4 linked regions of the Homo sapiens genome follow. The protein of the gene in region 1 binds, or shares a complex with, the protein of each later gene. Each region holds a gene or a part of one and is shown in the gene's direction. Other genes may lie near its edges. The genes, in order: MED19, MED13, MED4 and MED12.

Region 1 (6,032 bases):
CAGCTAATTTTTTATTTTTAGTGGAGACAGGGTTTCTCCCTGTTGGTCAGGCAGATCTCAAACTCCCAACCTCAGGTGATCCGCCCACCTTGGCCTCCCAGAGTGCCAGGATTACAGGCGTGAGCCACTGCGCCCAGCCTCCCAGATGCCTTTCATTGTCTCAAGTCTTATTTCCACATCATGACTTGAGGGAAATAGCAACAAATATTGGTATAGTACTTTGAAGTTCACAACACACTTACATGCAGTATTTAATATAAGTAGTATTTAATACTTAGAATAGCCCTTTGAGGTAGCATTACTGTCTACATTTTATAATTGAAAAAACTGAAACATGGAGAAGTTGACATCCCTTTGATTAGTTAGTGGTTGATGTCCACCAGCGGTTTCTTTTAATCTTTCTTTTGCCTTCCCTATTCTGATTGTAGCTATTTGTATCAGTCAGTTGACAGATATTGAATATATGTTCTGGGCAAATGCTGGGTGTATGAGGCGGGTGAGATGGAGAGAGAGATTAGTAATGCTGGTCATTGCTTTTCAAGGAGTTTAGTTAGGAATGTAAAATTTGTGGTTTAAGGATAGTGACTATATTTCCTGTCACCTCCATCTCATTTTGTGCTCATGCCTCACAACAGCAATTAACAATATCTTAGCCATCAATATTAAGAACTACCTAATGGTTTTCAAAGTGTGTTGCTATCCAGAATGACAGTGAGAATAAGATGTCACTTGAGCTAGACCTTGAATAATCCATATTGGTGAAGAAAAATTAGGAAGAATTTTCCTAAGATGAAATAATGTGAGGGGTGTTTTTTTGAGGCGATAAGGAGATCCATTTGGATGGATCAGAAATTTTGCATAGGAGAGTAGTGGTTGATGAGGCCCCAAAGCTAAGTTGGAGTAAGATGTAATTAGCCTTGAGTGCCAGTCAAAGGAATTTGAGCTTTCTCCTGAGGGCAAAAAGAAACCATTAAGATTTGTGAACTGAGGAGTACTGATTTCCAAAAATATCTGGAACATGTGGGTGCCATGGATTGAAATAGAGAAGCCCTGAGTGATGTTGGCAAGATTTGGAATTTCAAAACAATTTTTTTTTTTTTTATCTTGTTGGGCAGGGTGGTTCACGCCTGTAATCCTAGCACTTTGGGAGGCTGAGGCAGGCAGATAGCTTGAGTCCAGGAGTTCAAGACCAGCCTGGGCAACATAGGGAGACCCCTGTCTCTACAAAAAATACAAAAATTAGCCTAGCATGGCAGTGTATGCATGTAGTCCCAGCTACCTGGGAGGCTGAGGCAGGAAAGTAGTTTGAGCCCAGGATGCAGAGATTGCAGTGAGCTAAGATTGTGCCATTACACTCCAGCCTGGGTGACAGAGCGAGACTGTCTCAAAAAATAAATAAATATAAAAAGTAATCTTTGTAGAATAGTCAAAACTGGAATTTGAACTCTCAAGTTACAGTTTAGAAAAAGCACAGACTGCCTTCTCACCTGAGCCTTAAGGATAACCATCTGGACAGAGGAGAGTTGGCAGAGCAGGGGAAATTCAGAAGATTGTAATGGCAAGAGGCAGTGCCCAGAGTTATGAGGAGAGATACTGTGACATTGGGTCTCCTGCCATTACCCTCGCTCAGTCTTCTGAGTTGTTTGGTAGTAAAGGGAAGGAAAAGGATGAATAAGGCCTAGAGGTATAGAGGGAAAGTGCCTTGTTTATTTAATAAATATTTATTAAGCACCTAATGTGTGTACTGTGCTGGGCACTAGCGATACATGAATGAACAAGACATTGTCTGTGCCTCCAAGGAGCTTACAGTTCAGTACCTCAGTTTTCCCAAGTGAATGATTATAAACAAGCCATTTTTGTCATTTGTACCCTCTGTGTCTATCATAATTACAAATGAAGTTGTAGTTAGCTATTTCTACCCTTGCTAGTAGGTCCTTATTAAGTTACTAATAAATGTATATTTTTTAAAAAAGAATCAGCCATGCAATATTTATATGGATAGTGCCTTGCATACATATAATACTTTTTTTTTTTTTTTTTTGAGATGGAATCTGACTCTCCCACCCAGGCTGGAGTGCAGTGGTGCAAACTCAGCTCACTGCAACTTCCACCTCCCGGGTTCAAGCAGTTCTTCTGCCTCAGCCTCCCAAGTAGCTGTGACTACAGGCGCATGCCACCACACCCAGCTAATTTTTGTATTTTTAGTAGAGATGGGGTTTCACCATATTGGCCAGGCTGGTCTCAAACTCCTGACCTCAGGTGATCTGCCTGCCTTGGCCTCCCAAAGTGCTGGGATTACAGGCATGAACCACTGTGCCAAGCCTGATACTTTATGCTTTTCAGCATATTTTCATTTGAACCTTGGGAGAAAATTATGTGTATGTAAGATAGCTATTATTCCATTCCACAGATAAGAGGAAACTGAGGCATGGAAGACAGCCAGAATAATTCTAGTTGCCTGACTTGTTTTTTTGTTTTTGTTGTTTTGTTTTGTTTTGTTTTTTTTGAGACAGGGTCTCACTCTCTCACCCAAACTGGAGTGCAGTGGCCTGATCTCAGCTCACTGCAACCTCCGCCTCGCAGGGATTACAGGTGTGTGCCACTACTGTCCAGCTAATTTTTGTATTTTTAGTAGAGACAGGGTTTCACCATGTTGGCCAGGCTGGTCTTGAACTCCTGACCTCAAATGAGCTGCCCGCCTTGGCCTCCTGAAGTGCTGGGATTACAGGCGTGAGCCACCGCGCCTGGCCATTAGTTGACTGACTTCTAATCAAACATTTCTTCCTGGATGCGTGCTGTGGCTCACACCTGTAATCCCGGCACTTTGGAAAACCGAGGCGGCGGGGGGTGGCGGATCACTTGAGGTCAGAAGTTCAAGACCAGCCTACTCAACATGGTGAACCCCCTTCTCTACTAGAAAAAAATTAGCCAGGCATGGTGGTGTGTGCCTGTGATCCCAGCTACTTGGGAGGCTGAGGTGGGAGAATCACTTGAACCTAGGAGGCGGAGGTTGCAGTGAGCCAAGATCGTACCCCACTGCACTCCAGCCTAGGCGACAGAGCAAAACTCCCGTCTCAAAAACAAAAAACATTTATTCCTTTTAGGCAAGGCATCATACTCAGTATCACGAGGAAGAATAAAGATGTTGGTAACAAGTTAGGCAGTGGTAGCTAGAAAAAAATCTCCCAGTTCTTTTCTTATGTAAAGGTGATTAGTGTTTCTTGCTAGTAAAAAAAAAAAAAAGTCCTTGACAAGACCCTTAAGTCACTGGGTCATATTTGGCCCCCTGAGCATGGTTGTAGCTGAGCTGCAAGGTCGTATTTTCCTAGCTGTGTCAGAGAATATAATTTTTCACTAATACATTTTATGAGAAACACTCAGAACAGCATTTACCACGAAGCAAGCATCATATAAATCAACTCCAGTTAATCTTAAGAGAGTGGAGTGTCTCCTTCATTGGGCTAGAGCAGTTCCTGTCTCTGCCCTATTGGATTTTTGCCTGTTTTTCCCCTTCCCATTGGAACCTACCATTGTGTTGTATTATACTTTTCATGTTATTTACTTTTGCTGTTTTTTTTTTTTTTTTTGAGACAGAGTCTCGCTGTTGTCCAGGCTGGAGTGCAGTGGCGCAATCTCAGCTCACTGCAACCTCCACCTCCCGGGTTCAAGTGATTGTCCTGCCCCAGCCTCCTGAGTAGTTGGGACTACAGGCACGTGCTACCACGCCTGGCTAATTTTTTGTATTTTTACTAGAGACGGAGTTTCACCGTGTTGTTAGCCAGGATGGTCTCGATCTCCTGACCTGGTGATCCACCCGCCTCAGCCTCCCAAAGTTCTGGGATTACAGGCATGAGCCACTGCATCCGGCCTGCTCTGTTTCTTTAAAAATAAATTTTAAATTTTAAAATCTGCACTTAAAAAATGTCTTATTTAGGTTAATATATAGTCCTTCACTCCCTGGGTCTACTTTGAAGACTGATCTTTTTTATTTTTATTCTGCGTTGTCTAGGTAGCACAGAGCTGACAGGCAGCACGAATCTGATCACACACTACAACTTGGAACAAGCCTATAATAAATTCTGTGGGAAGAAGGTGAAGGAGAAGCTAAGTAACTTCCTGCCTGACCTGCCAGGGATGATTGATCTGCCTGGTTCCCATGATAACAGCAGCCTCCGCTCTCTCATTGAGAAGCCCCCTATTCTCAGTAGCTCTTTCAATCCTATCACAGGGACCATGCTGGCCGGCTTCCGCCTCCACACTGGCCCGGTGAGTCCTGTTGGAGGAAGAAGGCAAATGGGGAGGCCTAAACATGGAGATGGTTTTTCTCTCCAAGTCTGTTCCTTCATAATGGAGCAGAATGGATGATAAGAGCAGGAGAGATTTCCTCCCTCTACTCACCTGGACCTTCCTTTGGTTCCTTCAGTTGCCGGAGCAGTGTCGTCTGATGCATATTCAGCCTCCCAAGAAGAAGAATAAGCACAAGCACAAACAGAGCCGTACCCAGGATCCTGTCCCCCCAGGTAAGAAGCAGTTCTATTCAAAGCAAAAAAAAAAAAAAAAAAAAAAAAACCTGACCTTCTGAATCTGGTTTGAACTTCCATAGGTAAACCCAGTTAAGTTCCGTATGGAGCTCTGGACTCCTAAATTCCCCTGAAGAAGAAACCAATGTACTGTGGTCTCTTGGGACTTGGGACAGGGACTCTAGCAGCACCTCTGTATCCTTTCTGGCCATTTGGACAAAAGCAGTTGCCCCGACTTGGGATTTTCCTGTAGTCTTCAGTGGTTCATAACAGTAGAGGATTTTGAGCTTTACAGGTGATAGGTACCTAATGTCTCCTACAGAAACACCATCTGATTCAGATCACAAGAAGAAGAAAAAGAAAAAAGAAGAGGATCCTGAACGGAAAAGGAAGAAGAAAGAGAAGAAGAAAAAGAAGGTAGAGTAGAGGCCTATTGCCACAACCCAGTGAGTTTCCCCAGATCTCACCCCTGTCCTAAATACCCTAGAGTTCTTTGCCTCAAGTTGGACCCAAGATTGAAAACCCAAGGCAGGTTGCAGGTTTCTCCTGTACAGCCTGATCAAAGCCAAGGCTAGTTCCTAGTTGTTCTTACCCTGCTTCTTTCTCCCCCAGAATCGACATAGTCCAGACCACCCAGGTATGGGCAGCTCCCAGGCCAGCAGCAGCAGCAGCCTACGCTAATAGGACCACTGGACTCTTTGCCAGGATGGCTTTTCCTGCTGTACTGAACCTGCTGATAAAAGCTGCCTTCCAGGCTCTTGGACACTGCCTTGGGAGCATCCTGCAGCTGGGACAGAGGCCAGCTCCTGTTGGGCTCAGTTGAGACTAAGTAAATTAGGAGAGAGAGGGACATGCTTTTGTAGGCTCATCCCAGTTGGTTTTCTCATGGACATCTCTTCCTCTCCCAGGAAGCTTACAATTTTCTTCTCTCTCTTTTGTGCAATTTGTCTGATTTAGGACTTGTTCTGTGTTTTCTTTAAAAAAAAAAAAATTACATTTATCAAACTGGCTGAAGTGTGACTGCCTGTTAAGAGGTATGTGCCTTTCTGTGAATCAGGATTTAAGACAAGGCATTCCTAAGACTTGAGGGGATTTGGGTCTTGTCATTACATGATCTCACTAGCAGGCAGGGAACCAACCAAAATGAAAAGTGACCCAAGCTTACTAATACTCCACAGCAGACACGTAACACTCTGCCCATTATGTTGAGAACCAAGCGCCTCGGTGATCTCAGGCTCCATCTGAAGAGCTGATCCAGGTAGGGCTCAACAGTGTATTCTAGGTCAATTTTGTGTCGAAAGAGAATAGCCAACTGAAAACACATGGACAGTCACCCATGTGTTTCAACAAGATTGGTTCTTTAGGTCAGAAGCCTGTGATCTTTTGAGATGAACTTCTGGCAAGCAAAGGTAAAGCTTCCCTTCTCTTTACAAGAACTTTTGACCTGCTTCGGTCCTTAGTTAAGACAATAAAGTTATTTAGCTGATGTGAAAACATTTCTAAAACAGCAAC
Region 2 (7,026 bases), on another chromosome or scaffold:
ATATAATTACTGAAGCTTTAAATTGTGAAAGTCAGTATTAACTGAATCTTAGATAATAGGAATATAAATGATTGGTTGTATGCTATAAGGTTCCAAAGACTTCAGTAAGATAGTTTGATAATGATTTTTGACAGATAAACTTAGGATTTCTAGATAATTTTTTTTAAGTTCTTATTTGAAATTGAGTACTCTGAAGTTTTTGTTATTGTATCTCTGACCTATAGGATCTATTTTATTTTTGGATAGAATGTATTCTAGGTGTCTGTATCTTGAACTGGTACTTAGTAAGACCAACATTTATGTAGGAATGTACGTGTTACATTTGTATGTTTTGATAATTGCTTTTCACATTCTAATGAACATACTCTCCAGTGTTAATTGTTATTTTTGAGAGTGACTGCAATTCTTCAAGAAAGCTTTCCAGCTTTTGTAGTTTTTCTAATAAGATGCCTGCTGCAGAGTCCAGTCCTTAGTTGTGTGTATTTAATGTAGTTCTAAATGTGTAAAGTGATGTGTATATGTATATACATATATGTACATATACATGATGTATGTATATATGGTAGTTTTAGCGAGACAATACTTTCTAATTATGCCAAAAGCTAAGTCCGCCAGCCTCCTTTTTCTTTCATTGTTTTGGATATAGTATTTGAGTTATTTTAATCGTTAAGTGGTCATAAAAATCACCTTACTAGAATGTTTGGAGACTGTATAACATTGTTGAAAAACTATAAACTATTGATAAAATATATTTGTTGATAAAACATAATTATTGATAAAACTATAATGGTGACTTAGGGGCTTTGGTCTTCTTAATAAAGTTGGCAGAGCATCTAAACAGACTAAACAGATCTTTTTTTAAGATTCCATGAAATACACTTTGTAGAATCAAAGATAATTTTAAGAGATACATAATGTTTAATTTTTTTTTTCTTTTTTTCTTTTTAAGTAGAGATGGGGTCTTGCTGTGTTGACCAGGCTGGTCTTGAACTCCTGAACTCTAGTGATCCTTCCATCTTAACCTCCCAAAGTGCTGGGATTACAAGTGTGAGCCCCTGCACCTGGCCTAGTTTTACCGTAATAGAAAAAATATTGTGAAAGTTAAAAGACTATTAAAGTTAGATGTGAGCTGCTTTGATGGATATTGTTAAAAGTCAGTTTTGTCTTCTAGGTTTCATGTTACCAGTCAGATATGTTTTCTCCACTGAAACTAGGTTACAGTCTTAAACATTTTTCTCTAGCTTTGATTTTTAGCGTAATTTTCAAAAATGGTAGTTACTTGTACCTTTAAAATAGTGATCAGCTGGGTGCCATGGCTCACTCACGCCTGTAATCCCAGCACTTTTGGGAGGCTGAGGCAGGCAGATCGCAGGGTCAGGAGATAGAGACCATCCTGGCCAACATGGTGAAACCCCATCTCTACTGAAGACACAAAAATTAGCTGGGCATGGTGGCACGCACCTGTAGTTCCAGCTACTCAGTAGGCTGAGGCAGGAGAATTGCTTGATCCCAGGAGGCGGAGGTTGCAGTGAGCCGAGATCTTGCCACTGCACTCCAGCCTGGGCGACAGAGTGAGACTCTGTCTCAAAAAAAAAAATAGATAGTGATCTTGAACGTGAATGAAAATAATTTTGGGAGGTTGGTTTTTTTTTTTTTTTTGAGACGGAGTCTCATTCTGTCCCGCGGGCTGGAGTGCAGTGGCGTGATCTCGCTCTCTGAGTGCAGTGGAGCTTGCTTGCTGCAAGCTCTGCCTCCTGGGTTCATGCCATACTCCTACTACCTCAGCCTCCTGAGTACCTGGGACTACAGGCGCCCACCACCACGCCCGGCTAATTTTTTGTATTTTTAATAGAGACGGGGTTTCACTGTTAGACAGGATGGTCTCGATCTCCTGAGCTTGTGATCCGCCAGCCTTGGCCTCCCAAACTGCTGGGATTACAGGCAGGAGGTAGGGTTTTAACTGCTGTCAGACTTTACTGAATGCTAATGAATGGTAAATAGCTTTTTTTTTGAGATGGAGTCTTGCTTTGTCGCCCAGGCTGGAGTGCAGTGGCGCAATCTCAGCTCACTGCAACCTCCACCTCCTGGGTTCAAGCGATTCTCCTGTCTCAGCCTCCCGAGTAGCTGGGATTACAGGCACATGCTGCCACACTCGGCTAATTTTTTGTATTTTTAGTAGAGATGGGGTTTCACCGTGTTCGCCAGGCTGGTCTCGAACTCCTGAGCGCAGACAGTCCACCCGCCTCGGCCTCCCAAAGTGCTAGGATTACAGGCGTGAGTCACTGCACCTGGCCGTAAATAACTTAAAAATTTATCAAAGTGAAGTGATTGAAATAATAAACTGAAATACAATTAGGAGTGGTATATGATCATATTTATTGTTCCAAAGCTTGTCCTGTACTGTTTTAGTTTGCATAGTCAGTGTTATTTATATAATATTTTAGCTTTTCTTAAAAATAAAACCTGTTATTTACTTAAGAATGTTGTTACTTAAATCAGACGTATCTTAAAGCATAATAAGGTTTTTTCAGATGGAATATATTTGTCTTGCCCTTTTCTTTGCTCTAGGGACAGCGTCTACCTCCCTCTTGGGGTAATTAGTCTGCCTCTGTCTCTCTAGCTAACCCCTTTTTCATTTCTTCCATCTGTGGCACTCTATTTCCTTCTTCTAAGCTCCCCTGAGAAGAGAGCAGCTGGACAGTACAGGGTAGCATCAGCTGCTGGAGGCAGTCCTGAGTTCCAAGTGGAGGTGTAGCACTGAGGAATGGGGTACCGGAAGGACCCAGGTGGTAACTAAAAAGCTGGTTAATTTAGCTTGAGCCTGCTCTTCACAGGCAGTGTCCTTCTGTTTGGTTCAGCACACACCACATCTTGTTACTGAAGTGTTTTTTATTATGGTGATAATATTGCCCTTGTTTTTCTTGGTAGTGAGGGAAGAGGGAAAGCATTTCTTTTTTCAAAGATTAGAATTCTCAGTTTTTCTTAACTGGAATATTCAGTAACAGAAATACAGAATTGCCTTTGTTTAACCCCCTTAGCTCCTTTGTGTCATGCAGTGTATTTTTAAAAATTAACTAATGAACCAATATTGATACTTTATTATTAACTAAAGTATATATTTGGATTTCCTTTATTTTTTTGCCTAATATGTTTTTCTTTTCTAGGATCTCATTTAAGATACCCCTATTACATTTAATTGTCATGTCTCCTTAGGCTTTGTTAGACTGTGACAGTTTCTCAGACTTTCTTTGGTTTTGATGATTTCGACAGTTCTGAAGAATCTGTTCAGATTCCATAGTGCATTTTAAATTTCATTTTCTCTTATGTCACTTAGCATTTGTTTGGGTTACCTTCCTTTCAAGTTTAGCTGATGTGTAGAAATAGAATGTAAACTTATTTTATTGCTAACTGGCAAAGATCAGTTACAGCAAATCACGTCTGATTTAATACATACTTTAAACCCTCAGTTACTCATTTTGTAGCAGTAAGTCAATACCGTTGAGCAAAGTAATTTGCAAAGGCTGGATGATTTTTGGATCAGGATTTGTGCTAACTAGTATTAGCCAAACTATAACATTCCAGAAGGTTATTTGTTCAAAAAATCTCTTGAATTCCAAAGCCAAACATAGATGATTTTCTTACTTTTTGCTTTATCCTCTATAGGATAATGATTAGTTGAATCGGGGTCGATATGTTTTGATACAAAAAGGATTAGGGAATAAAACTCCTTTGGGGTTACAGCTTTTTTCTTTCTTTCTTTCTTTTTTTTTTTTTTTTTTTTTTGAGATGAAGTCTCGCTCTGTCTCCCAGGCTGGAGTGTAGTGGGGCGATCTTGGCTCACTGCGACCTCCGCCTCCCAGGTTCAAGCGATCCTTCTGCCTCAGCCTCCCGAGTAGTTGGGACTACAGGCATGTGTCATCACGCCTGGCTAATTTTTGTATTTTTGGTAGAGATTTTAATAGGAGTTTCGCCATGTTGGCCAGGCTGGTCTGGAACTCCTGGCCTCAGGTGATCTGCCCGCCTCAGCCTCCCCAAGTGCTGGGATTACAGGCATGAGCCACCATGCCTGGCCCCTTTTTTTTAAAAATTGTATTTTGTAGCTTTGTTTAGTGGTTGTGTGATAGTGGGTGAAAGAGGTATAAAATGGGTGATGGGAAAATCTTAGCTCAGTCCCTCTGGTCAAGAATCTCTGTGGTGGGTAGGACTGGTACTTTTAAGTGTACTGTTAATTTGCTTCAGAGCAAGATTGTATCATTTTCATTAATGTGGTCTTGAAGGAGAGTTTTCTGTGTATTTTTATTCTGTGTTCTAACATTTTTGGAATTCAATTGCTGTCATCATTGGCTTTTATTCTTTCCCTTTAAATAAAAATAAAAGCAAACACTGCGTCCTCTCCCATTTGTCATCTTAAAAAAATCATAGCAAGTTAGACTGTGATGAGACTCTTTGAGAAAACTGATACCTTGTGAACTAAAAAAACTCAGGGCTAAAAATATTTGTTCTTTTTCCTGGCTCCTGAGGTCTGTAAAGTAGATTTTAGTAACATGTTCAGATAGTTTTATTATACCAGAATTTTATCATAATGAATAGTGCTCAAACTAAGTGGACTATTGTTCTGAATTTAATTTTGGATGTTTTAATTGAAGGATATTAACTGTAGTGGACTTTAACCTTAAATGACAGCTGTTAATAGGATTGACAGATAGATAAACAGCCAGGCATAGGAATCTAGTCCCAGCCAAACTAAAACATTGTTGTGTGCCCCACATAGTCTAAAGAGAGTAATTTATTTCTACTATTGTAAAATTTACTTGTGATGTGGCCCGACTCTTTAAATTGGCTAGTCTCCTAGGTGACAACTTCATTTGCTGTATTTCTTCTGCATACTGTTTTTTTGATCAAGTGTATCTTCTAAGTTTTCAAGCCAAACATAACATACTAGGCTGTTTTTAAATCAGTTTTCAAGTTTTGCCATAGATAATGATGCGGCCAACTTAAGGCTCTCGGTATATTTGTTGAATGTATAGGTTATTAATGATTATTCAGGAGAAACACTGATCTAGCATTTAAACATTTCTCTTTATTTCAGGAAATACATGGTATTTTCTACCATGTTAATTTTTGAGCCATTATTCATTAGCATATGTTACATTTTAATAGTTTTGCAAAATTGTATTGGAGAAGATTCATTTTTTACCACCGTGGAGATATTTAAAGATGCCATTTTTTTGAGAAAAATGTTGAGTGCAGGGTGTGTCTGCTTTTTTGGTTGTGATTTTTTTTCCCCATTGATAGAGAATTATTTTGATGACTTATCACATACTTTGGCACTACTGTAATCTGCATCTTCAGGAAAAAAATATGGTAATCAAATTTAGCATTTGTGTTTTCTTCCAATAAATAGTCCATAAAAATTTCAAGAAACACTGATGATTAAGAACTGTAATGCTAATAGTAACAGAAAAGTACTAAGAATGCAGAGTTGAACTTTATTTTCTCTGGACATAGAGCTACAAGAGAAGGAATTTTTTTTTCTTTTTTTTGTAGGGATGGAGGTCACACTTTGTCTCACTCAGCCTGCAGTGCTTAATCATAGCTCACTGCAGCCTCCGACTCCTGGACTCAAGCAATCCTCCCACCTCAGCTTCCCCAGCAGCTGGGCCTACAGGCATTGCCACTATGCCCTACTAACTAAAAAAAGTTTTTTGGAGTCAGGGTCTTCCTGTATTGCCAGGCTAGTCTTGAACTCCTAGCTTCAAGTGATCCTTCTGTCTTAGCTTCCCAAGTAGCTGGGATTACAGGCATGAGTCATTGCACCTGGCTAGAGGAGGAAAATAGTTATATAGATTAAGCAGACTTTTTCTATTAGGCTCTGGTTAAGTTCAAAAGAGATAGGTAAAGATTTGCCATATGTTCCCTTCTCCTTCCCCTCCCTATTATAATGCTGGTGTTGAGATTCAAGAACTTGTTTCAATTAGTGTAAATAGTGCATATCACTATGCCTTGAGTGGGTTGGTTGTACCATTTCACTTTTCGTATCTGAATACAACGTGTAGAAAGTACTTTTATTACAGTTATTAGATTGTCAGGATATTAGAAACTTGGCTCAGTAGGCTTCTTGTTTCTAAGTGATTCCCAACAAAACCAAAAACCTTCAGACTTTATTGAGCGTTATTAGGACTTACTCTCGTTTTTCTCAGCAACAAAATATGAAATTATATTACTTTAGTGTAATGGTTGCTTAGTTGCTTGCCATATAGATGAGGACATACTTCAGAGATACGTTGGATTTAGAAAACCTCAACAGGTGGTCTCTACTTGTTTGTTTTATGCATAGCTCCTATTTAGTGTTAATGAGAATTGTGGGCACTGGGGACATAAGATGCCCACCCCCTCTGAAAGCATTAGAATAATGAGGGAGAAATGCTTCAAGATTAATACTGATTACTTTTCTAAACCACATTCAATATTCTTTTTTTTTTTGAGATGGAGTCTTGCTCTGTCACCAGGCTGGAGTGCAGTGGCGTGATCTCGGTTTACTGCAGCCTCTGCCACCCAGTTCAAGTGATTCTCCTGCCTCAGCCTCCCGGATAGCTGGGACTACAGGTGCATGCCATCTCGCCCAGCTAAGTTTTGTATTTTTAGTAGAGATGGGGTTTCACTATGTTGGCCAGGCTGGTCTTGAACTCCTGACCTCAGATGATCCACCTGCCTCGACCTCCCAAAGTGCTGGGATTATAGGCATGAGCCACCGCACATGGCCTCACATTAAATATTCTTAAATCATTTGACTGCAAGTTTAACTAAAATAGATTTTACAAAATAAAACCATAAAATTTTCAGAATTTCATGTGAAAATTTATAAATTGTGCTTTAGCTTTTACTATTGCAAAGGTTTTTTTTTTTGTTTTTTTGAGTCAGAGTCTCGCTATGTCGCCCACAGTGGAGTGCAGTGGTGTGATCTCAGCTCACTGCAACTCCCATCTCTTGGGCTCAGGTGATTCTCATGCCTCAGCCTCCTGAGTA
Region 3 (7,807 bases), on another chromosome or scaffold:
GCCTTAAAAAAATAAAATAGGCCAAGCATAGTGGCTCCTGCCTATAATCCCAGCATTTTGAGAGGCCAAGGCGGGCAGATCACCTGAGGTCAGGAGTTCGAGACCAGCCTGGCCAACATGGCGAAACCCCATCTCTACTAAAAATACAAAAATTAGCCAGGCATGGTGGCACATGCCTGTAATCCCAGCTACTTGGGAGGCTGAGGCAGGAGAATTGCTTGAACCTGGGAGGTGGAGGTTGTAGTGAGCTGAGATCGTGCCACTGCACTCCAGCCTAGGTGACAGAGCAAGACTCTGTCTCAAAAATATAATAATAAAATTAAAAAAATTTTTTTAAAGATACATAGTGTATTCAGCTATCTATTCCGCCTACCCTTAGGGACAGCCTTGGTTGAGTTTCTCGCTGCACCTCCAAACCTCCACACCAACTGCTTGCAGCTGCTTTTTGCTCAGAATTTCAAGCTGTGCATTTATTTGATAGTGTTTGTATGAGGGGTTCTTCAAAAAGTTCATGAAAAGTGTGTATTATAGAAAAACTATAGATGCATTTCAAAATATTTTTCCACCAAAATAAAGTCATACTAACTTGTTATAACATGTATGAACAGGATCTAGTTTGAGGCACAAGAAGGATAAGACATCAGTTTGACAAGAGCCCCTATCAGAACAATATGAATTCTACTAAAATTGAAGCAAGAATATCAAATTGATGGTGAAGCTTGTGTGGAAGAATGGTGAAATCTTGATGCTTTATGAAAAGTTTATGAGGACAATGCCCTAAAGAAATCAGCAGTTTTACAAATAGAAAACTCATTTGAAGAAGGGATGAGATGATGTTGAAGATAAAGCCTGCAGCAGCAGACCATCCACATCAATTTGCAAGGAAAATATTTATCTTGTTTGTGCCCTAATTGCAGAGGACAAGCAATTAATAGACAACACTATAGACATCTCAATTTGTTCAGCCTATACAATTCTGACTCAAAAACTAAAGTTGAGCAAACTTTCCAATCAATGGATGCCAAAACTGTTATGCCCAAATCACCTGCAGACAAGAGCAGGGCATTCAATGGAAATTTTAAACAAGTGAGATCAAGATCCTGAGGCACTTCTTTGAAGAGCTGTAACAGGAGATGAAAAATGGCTTTACCAGCACAATCCTGATGATAAAGCAAAATCGAAGCAATGGCTATCAAGAGGTGGAAGTGGTCCAGTCAAAGCAAAAGCAGACCAGTCAAGATCAAACAGCATGGCAACAGTTTTTGGGATGCTCAAGGCATTTTGTCTGGTGACTTTCTGGAAAGCCAAAGAATGATAACAATGGCTTATTATGAGAGTGTTTTGAGAAAGTTAGCAAAAGCTTTAGCAGAAAAACACCCGAGAAAGCTTCACCGGAGAGTCCTTCTCCACCACAACAATACTCCTGCTCATTCCTCTCATCAAACAAGGACAATTTTGGAAATGTTTCAATGGGAAATCATTGAACATCCACCTTACAGTCCTGATCTGACTTCTTTTTGTTTCCTAATCTTAAAAAAATCTGGGCCAGGCTCAGTGTCTCATGCCTGTAGTCCCAGCACTTTGGGAGGCCGAGGGGGGTGGATCACTTGAGGTCAGGAGTTTGAGACCAGCCTGGCCATCATGGCAAAACCCCATCTCTACTAAAAATACAAAAATTAGCTAGGCATGGTGGCACATGCCTGTAATCCCAGCTACTCGGGAGGCTGAGACAGGAGAATCACTTGAACCCGGGAGGTGGAGGTTGCAGTGAGCCAAGATTGTGCCACTGCACTCCAGCTTGAGCAAGACAACAGAGCAAGACTCTGTCTCAAAACTAAATAAATAAATAAAATCTGTAAAGGGCACTCATTTTTCTTCAGTTAATAATGTATTGGGAGGATTGCTTGAGCCTGGGAGGTCAAGGTTGCAGTGAGCTGTGGTTGCACCACTGCCCTCCAGCCTGAGTGACAGAGAGTGAGACCCTGTGGCAAAAAAAAAAAGAAAAGAAAAAAGTAAAAAAGACAGCATTGACACGGTTAAATTCCAAGGGCCCTCATTTATTTAGGGATGAACTAAATGGCTGGTATCGTCATTTACAAAAGTGTCTTGAACTAGATGGAGCTTATGTTGAGAAATAAAGTTTATATTTTAAATTATTATCTTTTAATTCCATTTTTCCATGAACTTTTTGAAGTCCTCTCATATTTTAGGTCAGAGGTTCCCAGTCCTTTTAGTACCTGAATATCCTTCTTTCTTTACAGAGAGCTGGGATAACCAGTGGTAAAGAGCACAGACCCTGGAGCCAGACTCTGGGTTCAGATTCCAGCTTTGCCATTTACTATATGACCCCGGCATGTGTCTTAACATTTCTGCCCCTCAGTTTCATTATCTGTAACATAGGGATAGTAACAGTACTTACCTCATAGGAGTGTTAGGAAAATTAAACAAGTTAATATTTTTGAAGTGCTTAGAACACTGCCCACCATGTCAATAAAATTTCATGAGAAAGTAGTGTCCTTTTTGAATCTACAGATTGAGAAAATATGTACCTAACTCCAAATTACCATGAATTCAGTAATACTATATAAAATAATTCATATTTGTTTATCACGCCTGGATTTGTACAATTTGCAAGACAGTATATCTGTGAAAGATGCTATTACTTATCAGTCTATAGAAACTGTTTAATATGCATATGAATTTGCAATAAATCTGAGGAGGTCAGGAGTTCACAATACACATACATGCTCCACACACTGATCCTCAGTGTCTGCAAAGTAGGACTATAATTGGTCATTTTTAACTAATTAGAATCCTTCTAGAATTTTTATGTTTACACTAATATAATGTTCTCTCTCCTCCTACCAGAGTCATGGCTCAATATGACCCGTGAGAGTTGAGTAAACAAAACCAACACATACCGCAGAAGTTTGGCACCCTGGAAACTTAACATAAGAAATGATTGACTAGAGTACTGAGAGGCATGTTTAGAATGCAAGTGTAATGAACAAAGCTTCAATCTACTTTAGCCCATTGCCTGAGAATTGACTGCATTAACAAAAAAGGGTTAGCCAACAGCAGATGCAGGGAACGGTCAGAAAACAAAAGGTGACAAGGATCTCTTGCACTGTCTAGAGGAAAAGGTACCCTGACCTATGAACACAAATAATCCAATCTCTTGAACACAAATATCCCTACACTGTGGAGACACAAAGCCTCATGATTGTGTCATTAATTTTTAATCTATCCTTGTTTGTTCTGATCCAAGTTTAACAAGCAACATCCTGTGATAATATGGCTTCTCATATAGTTTTGTCTATGGGAAAAAGATATGTTTGGCACTATTACTTTTCATCGTAAGTGAGTAAATCAGCATTCTAGATTACGCAGCAGTTGCTATGAGTGAATTTATTTAACATGAATTTCTAAAAGACTTGTCAACTCTGGGTGCCCAGGAGTCAGGTTTAGCACCTCCAAAAAGACAGAGTAGAGGATGAGACCCTGAAATGAAAGGACTACAGGTACTACTACCTCATGGGAGTGAGGCAGTCCCAGACCATCTTTTATAATAGCAATATGGAATCCTCATTCCCAATAGGCTTGTAACTTTGCTTTTTTCTGGTAGAGAGTGATCCCTACTACATTGTTATCCCTAGGAAAAGTAGGCTAAGACGTATTTTTGCCTTTGACAACCAGTTCTGGTTTGGAATGTGTGGTACATCAATGACTTAAACTATGTTAATTAACTACTACTTATGTACTGTATTGGTTCCTTCAGTTCAATAATTAACCTGAGTAATGAGCAAAACATTTTGTTGGAAGATGTATGGCTATAAAGATGGATTATAGCAATGTGGAAGTAACCTAACTGTCCATCGTCAGATGAATGGATGAACAAAAGGTGCCATATGCATACAATGGAATATTAGTCTTAAAAAGGAAAGATATTCCAGCACATGCTACATCATGGATGAACCTGGAGGACATAATGCTGAGTGACATAAGCCAGACACAAAAAGACAAATACTGTATGATTCTGCTTATATGAGGTACCTAGAGTAGCCAAACTTACAGCAATGGAAAGTAGAATGGTGGTTGCCAGGGCCTGGAGAAGGGAGGGATAAGGAGTTAGCATTTAGTGAGTACAGAGTTTGTTTTACAAGATAAAAGGTTTTGGAGATGGATAGTTGCTCAACAGTATGAATGTATTTAATGCCACTGAACTATCCACTTAAAAATGGTTAAGGTGGGCCGGGTGCGGTGGCTCACGCCTGTAATTCCACCACTTTGGGAGGCTGAGGCAGGCGGATCACGAGGTCAGGAGATTGAGACCATCCTGGCTAACAAGGTGAAACCCCGTCTCTACTAAAAATACAAAAAATTAGCCGGGCGTGGTGGCGGTCGCCTGTAGTCCCAGCTACTCGGGAGGCTGAGGCAGGAAAAATGGCGTGAACCCAGGAGGCGGAACTTGCAGTGAGCCAAGACATCCGCGGCGATGCACTCCAGTCTGGGCAACAGAGCGAGACTCGTCTCAAAAAAAAAAAAAGAAAGAAAGAAAGAAAAAAAACCATTAGGCCCAGGAGAATCAGACTGCGTTGCCCCCACTGTTCTCAGTTCAGCTGTCGCTCCCAGGGTTTGGACCAGAAAGCCCTCGCCGGCCCAACAGATGGCGCCGGTGTCCGCAGTGCGCCTCCAGGCCCAAAGGGGGCGCTCTCGCCAGGCCTCTTTTTCCTCTCCTGGGTGACTCTTCCGCCTTCCGAGCCCGCCTTCTCGCCACGCACCTGCGTCAGCTCGCTCTGCGCGTGCGCCGGTGGCGGGACTCTGGGGAAAATGGCTGCGTCTTCGAGTGGTGAGAAGGAGAAGGAGCGGCTGGGAGGCGGTTTGGGAGTGGCGGGTGGTAACAGCACACGAGAGCGGCTGCTGTCTGCGCTTGAGGACTTGGAGGTCCTGTCTAGGTAATGCGGCGAGCCTGAGAGCCGGGCTGGAGCTGGGCCGGGGGACTGACCCCGGAGCCGGCCGGCCCTGCGTTTGTGCTCGTTCTCGGGGTTCGGCGGGGAGGGCCAGCTCGGGAGTTTCGGGTGCATGAGGGTCATGGACGTGGGGTCCGCAGCCCTCTGGCACTCTGGGCGGCGGTTTTTCCCGTTAGAGGGAATTTTAGTAATGATAAGAACTCGCGCGGTCTGAGCCTCTTCGTCCGCGGCCAGCCACTTAACATTTATGGAACGCTCCTTGGGGGCTCAGCATTGGGGAGACGGTAGTGAAGGGTAGACTGGATGCCAGCTGTCGAGAGAGAGACAGATGTGTAAACTGGCTTGGGGCCTGTTTTTATTAGAGGGCTGCGCTGCGGGGTACTGGAGCACAGGGACTAGGCACCTTTTTTGGTTGTAGTCAGGGCAGGCCCTCTGAAGAAAGTGCTGCTTGGGAAGCATGAGCTCGCCAAACTCACTAGGCAGCACAGATAGATGGAACAGCAAGTGCAAAAAGCCTGGCTTGGTGGAGTTGCAAGTTGTTTAGGATGGTTGTGTGTCAGAGATAGGAGATGAAATTAGATGTCGTTCTTCATATTCTGTCACCTTTCATGATAAGTCTTTCAAGTTGAAGCCTTCCTTGACTCCCTCCCATTGACTTGGATGGTAAATTATCTTGGTTCTACCTCCTAAAGTGTCGCTCCAATTTGCCCTCTCGTTCCAACCCCGCTGTTCATAACTCCTTCTTAAATGTAGCCTCCCAAACAGTTTTAATTGCCTCATGCTTCTGCACTTTATCCTTTTATATTGGCCGATACCAGTTTTAAAAGGCATCTTATATCACTTTTCTGCAGAAAAATTATATAAAAGCTACCTCATTGGTAGGTTTGCGTTGTCCAGTGAGGTAAAGTTCAAATTCTTTAGTCAGACTTCCACATCTTCAGTGCCATTCCCAGTCTACTCCCGATTTGGTGAATGATTCATATATCCTTCAGAATCCAGCTCAAATGTCACTTTTTCTATAGCCAACATTCTTTGACAGCTTTAGAATAAATCTTACCTGTTGTATTTTAAAATATACGTGATATAATCAGCACTTTATTTTTGGTGTAAATTTAGTCCTTGCCATCGTATTGCTACCAAGTTACCAGGTCAGCACAATATTTAATGATGGAAGAAAACCCGAAAACACCTAGACAGCAGAAATTAAATGGCTTATGTGTTTGATCCACTGTTTAAAATAAACTGTATTAGGGCCGGGTGTGGTGGCTCACGCCTATAATCCGAGCACTTTGGGAGGCCAAGGCGGGCGGATCATTGGAACTTCTTCACAGAATGAAGCTGCTCTGGTGGTGTGACTGGCTTCCAGAAAGGTCTCATGTGTTCACTCAGAGGTAGTTATGTGTACTGATTCTGTGATCTGTGAAGTTTGTCAGTCTCTGAATGTAATTTGTGTCTGGCTTGCATTTATGAAAATGAGAAGAAAAATCACGAATATACCTTACATATTTTTAGATTTAGCCTCTTTAAAAATAGTGGATTTATAACTTAGGATCTTTTTTTTTCTATTAACCTGATTATATAGCCTTTCGGGATATTTATTAGTTTATAAAATGTAATGCAAGGAGATAGTCTTAAAAAGTTGAAACACAGGTTGTAGGCTAAACGTTTTTTTTAACCCATTTGTAACTCAAAACTCATTGTTCCACAGAACCATGTTGATAGGAATCTTGAGTTTTCCACACCAGCCTGTTAATTCTGTTTACCTGAAAAGTGTATTACTGCTAATAATGTAGGCTCTAACCGCTATGGAAATTTTATTTCTATGGGGAATTGTGTCTGGATTCTAATGCAGTATGCTGGGAATGCACCTTCTTTTTAGCAGGACAGGGCTCTTGAGTGTGGGGGCTTCCTTTGGCCTCTTTTTCGCAGTTGGGGAGGACAGGGGTTTCTATTTTGTCCTGGACTGTTACAGAACATGACTAAGTCTTAGAGACTTCTACCTCCCCTCTACTCCGGCGCCTAAGGCAAGCCTTGTAAAGCCTTCTGTGGACTCACGCTCCCAGATTTGCAAGAACAGAGGAAGGCTTATCCCACATCTCCTACCATAGCCCCACTCTAGTCAGCACCACTCCTGCCCCACCTGAAACCAGCTTTTACTTAGACCAGAGGTTCTCAACCGTCTATGTCTCACTTGTGGCGTACACTAAAAAGTTTACTTAACATGCTGTTTTCATACGCTGTTGATCCATCAGCAAGTCCTGTTAGCTCTACCTCCAAAAGATATCTGAAATCTGTCCATGTTTCTCCCATCACGATTACTAAGTCCTGGAGGCTATAACCTCGTCAAAACCAGTGTCATTTTTTGCCTGGAACACTACAGAAACCACCTAACTTACTTCCTGTTCTGGCCCTCTTACAGTCTATTTACCAGATCACTCAACAGTTTTTAAAAGTATAAATCAGGTCATGCCATTTCCCTGTTTAAAATAACCCAGTGGCTTCTCATTGCATTTAGAATGAAACACTAGGCCGGGCGCAGTGGCTCATGCCTGTAATCCCAGCACTTTGGGAGGCCGAGGCCGGCGGATCACCTGTGGTCGGGATTTCGAGACCAGCCTGACCAACAGGGAGAAACCCCATCTGTACTAAAAAAAAAATACAAAATTAGCCGGGCGTGGTGGCACATGCCTGTAATCCCAGCTGCTAGGGAGGCTGAGGCAGGAGAATTCTTTGAACCCGGGAGGTGGAGGTTGGGGTGAGCCGAGATCGCGCCATTGCACTCCAGCCTGGGCAACAAGAGCAAAACTCCATCTCAAAAAATAAAAAATAAAAAAAGA
Region 4 (7,026 bases), on another chromosome or scaffold:
GTATCTCTTTTATTTCTGTGTTTCCCTACACCCACCCATCTCTGCACACTTTTATCTTTTCCCTCTCTGTCAGTTGCGGTATTTGTTGAGTAACCATAATTATTGTGTATAGTTTAAAACCCAAAGTCTAACTCCTTCATATATACATTCTCTTCATCTGTCTTCCTAGTCCATCTGTCTCTTTTCCTCCGTCTCTGTCTCTCTCCCTGTCTGACTCGTTTGCCTTTCTTTGTCTCTCCACCTTTTTGTCTCTCTCTTCCTGTTTCTTTCTCTCTCTGACTCTTTCTCGGCCTGCCTAAAGGCAGAGTCTCTCCCTGCCTTCCTCTCTCTCTTTCTCTGCCTTCCTTTTTCTGTCTTCCTCTGAATGTCAATCCCTCTCCCTCCCCGCTCCCTCTCTGGCTTTCTCCCCAACCCCTTTCTCTCCCGATCTTCTCTCCCCACACGCCCCCCGCCCCGTTAGTTCATCTCCTCTCCTGGTCTGGGCTGGCTTCATCTTGTGCCTCCACACCTCTCCCTGTGCCCCACCCTTCACTCTCTCCCCGCATAACTCTCTTCCGCATGTATATGTGTATCCATGTCTGTCTGTCTGCTTCTTACCATCTCTCCTGAATCTGCCTATGACTTTCTTTCTACCCATTCCTACAAATGCTTGCAGTCTTCTGTTTTCTAAGTCCCAACAGCTTATTGTTTTTCATTTTCTGGAGCAGGGTCTACAGGTTTCCACCAAACAGAAGATCTCGCCCTGGGATCTTTTTGAGGGGTTGAAGCCGTCAGCACCACTCTCTTGGGGCTGGTTTGGAACAGTCCGAGTGGACCGGCGAGTGGCTCGAGGAGAGGAGCAGCAGCGGTTGCTGCTCTACCACACACACCTGAGGCCCCGGCCCCGCGCCTATTACCTGGAGCCACTGCCACTGCCCCCAGAAGATGAGGAGCCGCCTGCTCCTACCCTGCTAGAGCCTGAGAAAAAGGCTCCAGAGCCCCCCAAAACTGACAAACCGGGGGCTGCTCCACCCAGTACTGAGGAACGCAAGAAGAAGTCCACCAAGGGCAAGAAACGCAGCCAGCCAGCTACCAAGACAGAGGTGAGCGCCTCCCCCGTGACAGTTCTCCCACAGCCTCTCACTTCATGACGCTCCGGTTTCTGGTTTGTGGGAGGGGTGGGGGCGCATAAGGAAGGGGTGCCATTAGAATCATAATAAAAATTAACCATATACGAATTCAGCTCCTCTTTACCTCATTCTCCCCCAGCTCCCCGACCCCATTCAGCTACAACCCACTCACCCTCTTCCTCTGCCACTCACACAGGACTATGGAATGGGCCCGGGTCGGAGCGGCCCTTATGGTGTGACAGTGCCTCCGGACCTCCTGCACCACCCAAACCCTGGTTCTATAACACACCTTAACTACAGGCAAGGCTCCATAGGCCTGTACACCCAGAACCAGCCACTACCTGCAGGTGAGTGCCAGCCACTAGGAATGCTGGAGGGACCTACCTGTACACTCCCCCTGCCCAAAGGATGATGCCATTCCCCTGAGGAGCTATGGATGTCAAGGACACTGAGCAAGAGACAGAGGGATGAGGAGCCTAGAGGTCAGCCCACTCTCCTTTTCAGGTGGCCCTCGTGTGGACCCATACCGTCCTGTGCGCTTACCAATGCAGAAGCTGCCCACCCGACCAACTTACCCTGGAGTGCTGCCCACAACCATGACTGGCGTCATGGGTTTAGAACCCTCCTCTTATAAGACCTCTGTGTACCGGCAGCAGCAACCTGCGGTGCCCCAAGGACAGCGCCTTCGCCAACAGCTCCAGGCAAAGATAGTGAGAGGGGCAGTAGGGAGGGCTGTCAGGGAGAGGGGCTTTTGAGGGTCACAGGACGGAGGAGACACTTGGGATCTTCACAAGGACACTCAGGGTGGGAGACACAAGAGATGAGATGGCAGCAAGCATTTCCTGAGTTTGAGTTGTTCTCTTTTCTCCCTTTAGCAGAGTCAGGGCATGTTGGGACAGTCATCTGTCCATCAGATGACTCCCAGCTCTTCCTACGGTTTGCAGACTTCCCAGGTAAGAGCCTGGGATTGTGAGACTAGGGGGATGAGGCAAGCTGCTCTGCATACTCTCGGCCCTGATTCCCTCTCTCCTTCTTCCCTCCAGGGCTATACTCCTTATGTTTCTCATGTGGGATTGCAGCAACACACAGGCCCTGCAGGTACCATGGTGCCCCCCAGCTACTCCAGCCAGCCTTACCAGAGCACCCACCCTTCTACCAATCCTACTCTTGTAGATCCTACCCGCCACCTGCAACAGCGGCCCAGTGGCTATGTGCACCAGCAGGCCCCCACCTATGGACATGGACTGACCTCCACTCAAAGGTACCCAAAGTAGTGGTGAGCTAGGAAGAGATGCAGAGGTATAAGGGAGCATTTGACTTGGGAAAGCCTGTGCCTGAAAGTGGTGGGACTGGTCAGAACTTTCGGAGACATCAAGAATACTTATCTGGCCACATAGCCCATAACCACAGAAGTCTCGAGCTGGAAGGGACCCTGGAGACCAATAGTTTCATGACTACTTCCTTAACAGTTCTTTGAGGCCCAGAGAGGGGAAATTGTTTATCTGACTCAAGGAAAAATCTGGGCTGGGTGTGGTAGCTCACACTGGTAGTCCCAGCACTTGGGGGCCCAAGGTGGGAGAATCAGTTGATTCCAGGAATTCGAGGCCAGCCTGGGCAACATAGGGAGATCCCATCTCTACAAAAAAAATACATATTTTTTTGAAACAGAGTCGCACTCCATTTGCCCAGGCTGGAGTGTCGTGGCATGATCATGGCTCACTGCAGCCTCGACCTCTGAGGCTCAGGTGATCCTCCTACCTCAGCCTCCCAAGTAGCTAGAACTACAGGCACACACCACCACGCCCAGCTAATTTTTTGGATTTTTAGTTGAGATGGGGTTTCGCCATGTTGCCCAGGCTGGTCTTGAACTGAGCCACCACACCTGGCCAAAAAAAAATTTTTTTTTAATTAGACAGGCGTGTTGGTGCATGCCTGTAGTCCCAGCTACTCAGGAGGCTGAGGTGGGAAGATTGCTTGAGCTTGGGAGTTTGAGGCTGCAGTGAGCTGTAATCGCACAATGAGCCGAGATTGTGCCACAGCACTCCAGTGGTGACAGAGTGAGACCCTGTCTCAAAAAAAAAAGAAGAAAGAAAAGAAAAAGAAAAAAATATCTGGAGTTCATAGATGAACTACATGATAAGGAGTCGTAAAGCCAGTACCGGCTTTGAATACCAGGTTAAATACCAGGATGGACAAATGAATGAATCCTCCCACCATGGTTAACGTTAGTCAAGCCTTAGTTGAGGCCTTGTAACCATGTATAGAGACTCTGAAGCTTAGGATTAAGAACACTGGGGAGTGGGCTAACTGCCCATTGTGTGGCCAGCACTATACCAGGACTGGGTGAGGTGAAGAAAGATAGCAAAAAAAACCCCCACGATACATAGTTCCTCACTACAAAGAATCTTTACTATAGCTGGGGAGATGAGACTTATAGAAGAATATTGAGAGAACACTCTGAGCAAAGATATAATCAGGTATGCAGTTGTATGCTATGAGGTAAAATGTGGATTGAGAAAAAGTACGTGGTAATATCTGTGGGCCTGACTCATCAGAGAATGTTTCATGAAGGAGGTCAGACTTGAGTTGGCCTCTGAAGAATAGCTGTGATTGGGATTTGTGGAGAAGAGGAAAAGAAAGGGCATTCCAGGTAGAGGATGTAACGTGAACAAAGACATGGGGACCAGAATGAGGATGGTGCCTGGGGAGAAGGGCCTGGATGGAGTGTAAAATCTGTGCTGGGGAAGTCACTGGGGCTAGGCTAGGAGGGGGCAGGCTGAGAGATGGCCTTGAATGCTCAGCCGAAGAATTGAGACGCAGTCCCAGAAAGGGCTCTTTTGATCAGAAGAGTGATAGGAGGAGTTGGGTATGTTGCAAGGTTCCTTGGAATGAATGGATAGGATGTGTACTGGAAGGTGCAAGAAGAAGACTTCAGGCCAGGCACGGTGGCTCATGCCTGTAATCCCAGTACTTTGGGAGGCCCAGGCAGGCAGATCACCTAAGATCAGGAGTTCGAGACCAGCCTGGTCAACATGGTGAAATCCCGTCTCTACTAAAAATACAAAAATTATCTGGGTGTGGTGGCATGTGCCTGTAATCCCAGCTACTTGGGGGGCTGAGGCAAGAGAATCACTTGAACCTGAGAGGTGGAGGTTGCAGTGAGCCGAGATCGCATCATTGCACTCCAGCCTGGGCAACAGAGTGAGACTCTGTCTCAAAAAAAAAAGAAGACTTGAGACGGGGAGCCTGGCCAGTAGACTCTTGAAGTGATATACACATGTGGTAGAACAACTTGAAATGTTATTTGGGAACAACAACAGCAACAGCAAAAAACCTCAATGAGTGTTTATAGAATGCCTATCTTGTGCTAAGACTATTTTTTTCTTTTCTTTTCTTTCTTTTTTTTTTTTTTTTTGAGATGGAGTCTCGCTCTGTCATCCAGGCTGGAGTGCAGTGGTGCAATCTTGGCTCACTGCAACTTCCACCTCCCAGGTTCAAGCAATTCTCCTGCCTCAGCCTCCTGAGTAGCTGGGATTACAGGCATCCACTACCACGCTCAGCTATTTTTTTTTGTATTTTTGCTAGAGATGGGGTTTCACCATGTTGCCAGGCTGGTCTAGAACTCCTGACCTCAAGTGATCCACCCACCTTAGCCTCCCAAAGTGCTGGGATTACAGGTGTGAGCCACCGCACCCAGCCCTATTTTTCATTTTTGTAACAGAAAAATAGCTAATGCAGAATTGAAAAATTCCTAACCATTAAGGTTATGAGACACTAAAATAGAGTATCATCTTATGCAACTTATTCCCCAGACTGGAAGTCTGGTTAGTGACACGAGGAATGAATGAAATAACCTGCTAACGTTTCTTTCAGGTCAGGGACCCAAGGTTTATACTGACCCCCTCTCCTCACCTCCCTCATGCCTTGACCTCTGACCCTCTTATCTTTGGAGGTTTTCACACCAGACACTGCAGCAGACACCCATGATAAGTACCATGACTCCAATGAGTGCCCAGGGCGTCCAGGCAGGCGTCCGTTCAACAGCCATCCTACCTGAGCAGCAGCAGCAGCAGCAACAGCAGCAACAGCAACAGCAGCAGCAGCAGCAACAGCAACAGCAGCAGCAGCAGCAGCAGTACCACATCCGGCAGCAGCAGCAGCAGCAGATCCTGCGGGTAAGGCACTGGGATTTCATCTGGGACCTGGGAGCCCAGGGAGGAAGAGAGGCACAAGTTCTTCCCACACAGTTACCGAGACTAAACAAGGCAGTGTACCAAAACACCTAGCAGAGCGGCTGGCCTCTAGTGGTGCTGGAGAAGTTTTCTACCCTCCCCCTTTTTGTTTTCTGGGGATCATAGTGGGAGAGAGTTGGACATTGTCTGCTGGGTACCCTAGATTTGGTTTCTTTCTGTGCAGCTGTCTAAAAAGGGAAGGCAGTAGACCCCGAGCTCCCACCCTGCTTCCTCATCCCCTGCCCTCAGCCCTTTAGTTCTGAGGCTTAGCTTCCTCCCTCTGCTCCTTCTGAAGTATCTTTTGTGTTCTTATAGCAGCAGCAGCAACAGCAACAGCAGCAGCAGCAGCAGCAGCAACAGCAACAGCAGCAGCAGCAACAGCAACAACAGCAACACCAGCAGCAACAGCAGCAACAGGCGGCTCCTCCCCAACCCCAGCCCCAGTCCCAGCCCCAGGTAGCTGCTGGACTACAGCCCCAGGCTCAGGGACAGCTGCCCAGGTTGGGCACGCAGCCAGTGAACTGGGTTGGGGACAGTATGGAATAGGGTAGAGGTGGGAGGCAGGGCATGGCACCCTAAAAATGGATTGGGAGGCCAGGCGCAGTGGCTCACGCCTGTAATCCCAGCACTTTGGGAGGCCAAGGCAGGTGGATCACTTGAGGTCAGGAGTTCAAGACCAGCCTGGCCAAGATGGTGAAACCCCGTCTCTACTAAAAATACAAAAAATAATAATAATAAATAAGCCGGGCATGGTGGCAGGTGCCTGTTATCTCAGCTACTCAAGAGGCTGAGGCAGAGAATTGCTTGAACTTGGGAGGCAGAGGTTGCAGTGAGCCAAGATCATGCCACTGCACTCCAGCCTGGGGGACAGAGCGAGACTCCATCTCAAAAAAAAAAACGGATTGGGAAAGGAGGTTGAAGAAGGAGAAAAGTTCGACTTCAGTCTTCCACTTCCTATTTCCACCCAGTTCCAGCGCCAGGGGCTTCAGCAGACCCAGCAGCAGCAACAGACAGCAGCTTTGGTCCGGCAACTTCAACAACAGCTCTCTAGTAAGCCTGCCTGCCTTCCCAAGGAGAACCCCATGGAATAAATTTAGGGGGCGGGGTGGGCCAAAGTAGCTGAAACGATAGCTTCAGGCCCAGGTTATGAGAGGAGGCATTCCATTCCATCCCCTTCCCTCGATACCTGAACAGCTTTCCTCGTGCATACCCACACCCCTGCCTGGTCTTCCATCCCTGATAATCTCTGGTTTTTCACAGATACCCAGCCACAGCCCAGTACCAACATATTTGGACGCTACTGAGCCACCTGGAGGAACTGCTTGTGCACTGGATGTGGCCCCACCCTTTCCTCTTAATTCCCAATCCCATTCCTGGGCTAGCACCAGTAGTGGTTGGGGCCCTCCCCTCAGGCTCCATTTTTAATAAGTTTTTAGTATTTTTGTTAATGTGAGGCATTGAGCTGTTGGGTTTTGTATATTATTTATATAGAGACCCCAGAGCTGTTGCACCCAATACACAGAGCTTCTTTGCAAAGGGAGTGTGCGAGTTCTGCATGTCTGGGAAGGGTGGTCTCTTGGGAGAATGCAGGGGGTTGGACCAACAAGTCAGAGTCTTCATTCTATTCTGATCATCTCCCCTGTTTACCTTACACTCTAAAATTTCTTTTTTTCTTTTTTTTTGAG

Evidence for each region.
Region 2: MED19 (region 1) and MED13 share a complex: the UniProt entries of both Homo sapiens proteins name them as parts of the mediator complex.
Region 3: MED19 (region 1) and MED4 share a complex: the UniProt entries of both Homo sapiens proteins name them as parts of the mediator complex.
Region 4: MED19 (region 1) and MED12 share a complex: the UniProt entries of both Homo sapiens proteins name them as parts of the mediator complex.

The regions. Positions count from the first base shown.
Region 1 is NC_000011.10:57,703,207-57,709,238, reverse strand, and holds the end of MED19 (mediator of RNA polymerase II transcription subunit 19), read left to right. Parts: intron 1-4,009; coding exon 4,010-4,266; intron 4,267-4,423; coding exon 4,424-4,520; intron 4,521-4,603; coding exon of another isoform or gene 4,604-4,617; exon of another isoform or gene 4,618-4,842; coding exon 4,843-4,937; exon of another isoform or gene 4,938-5,132; coding exon 5,133-5,201; 3' UTR 5,202-5,529; downstream 5,530-6,032. UniProt on the Homo sapiens protein: Component of the Mediator complex, a coactivator involved in the regulated transcription of nearly all RNA polymerase II-dependent genes.
Region 2 is NC_000017.11:62,055,278-62,062,303, reverse strand, and holds part of MED13 (mediator of RNA polymerase II transcription subunit 13), read left to right. Parts: intron 1-7,026. UniProt on the Homo sapiens protein: Component of the Mediator complex, a coactivator involved in the regulated transcription of nearly all RNA polymerase II-dependent genes.
Region 3 is NC_000013.11:48,092,102-48,099,908, reverse strand, and holds the start of MED4 (mediator of RNA polymerase II transcription subunit 4), read left to right. Parts: upstream 1-4,804; 5' UTR 4,805-4,830; coding exon 4,831-4,955; intron 4,956-7,807. UniProt on the Homo sapiens protein: Component of the Mediator complex, a coactivator involved in the regulated transcription of nearly all RNA polymerase II-dependent genes.
Region 4 is NC_000023.11:71,135,574-71,142,599, forward strand, and holds the end of MED12 (mediator of RNA polymerase II transcription subunit 12), read left to right. Parts: intron 1-707; coding exon 708-1,082; intron 1,083-1,305; coding exon 1,306-1,456; intron 1,457-1,613; coding exon 1,614-1,810; coding exon of another isoform or gene 1,811-1,819; intron 1,820-1,984; coding exon 1,985-2,062; coding exon of another isoform or gene 2,063-2,152; coding exon 2,153-2,370; intron 2,371-5,061; coding exon 5,062-5,284; coding exon of another isoform or gene 5,285-5,395; exon of another isoform or gene 5,396-5,656; coding exon 5,657-5,797; intron 5,798-6,309; coding exon 6,310-6,391; intron 6,392-6,601; coding exon 6,602-6,645; 3' UTR 6,646-6,877; downstream 6,878-7,026. UniProt on the Homo sapiens protein: Component of the Mediator complex, a coactivator involved in the regulated transcription of nearly all RNA polymerase II-dependent genes.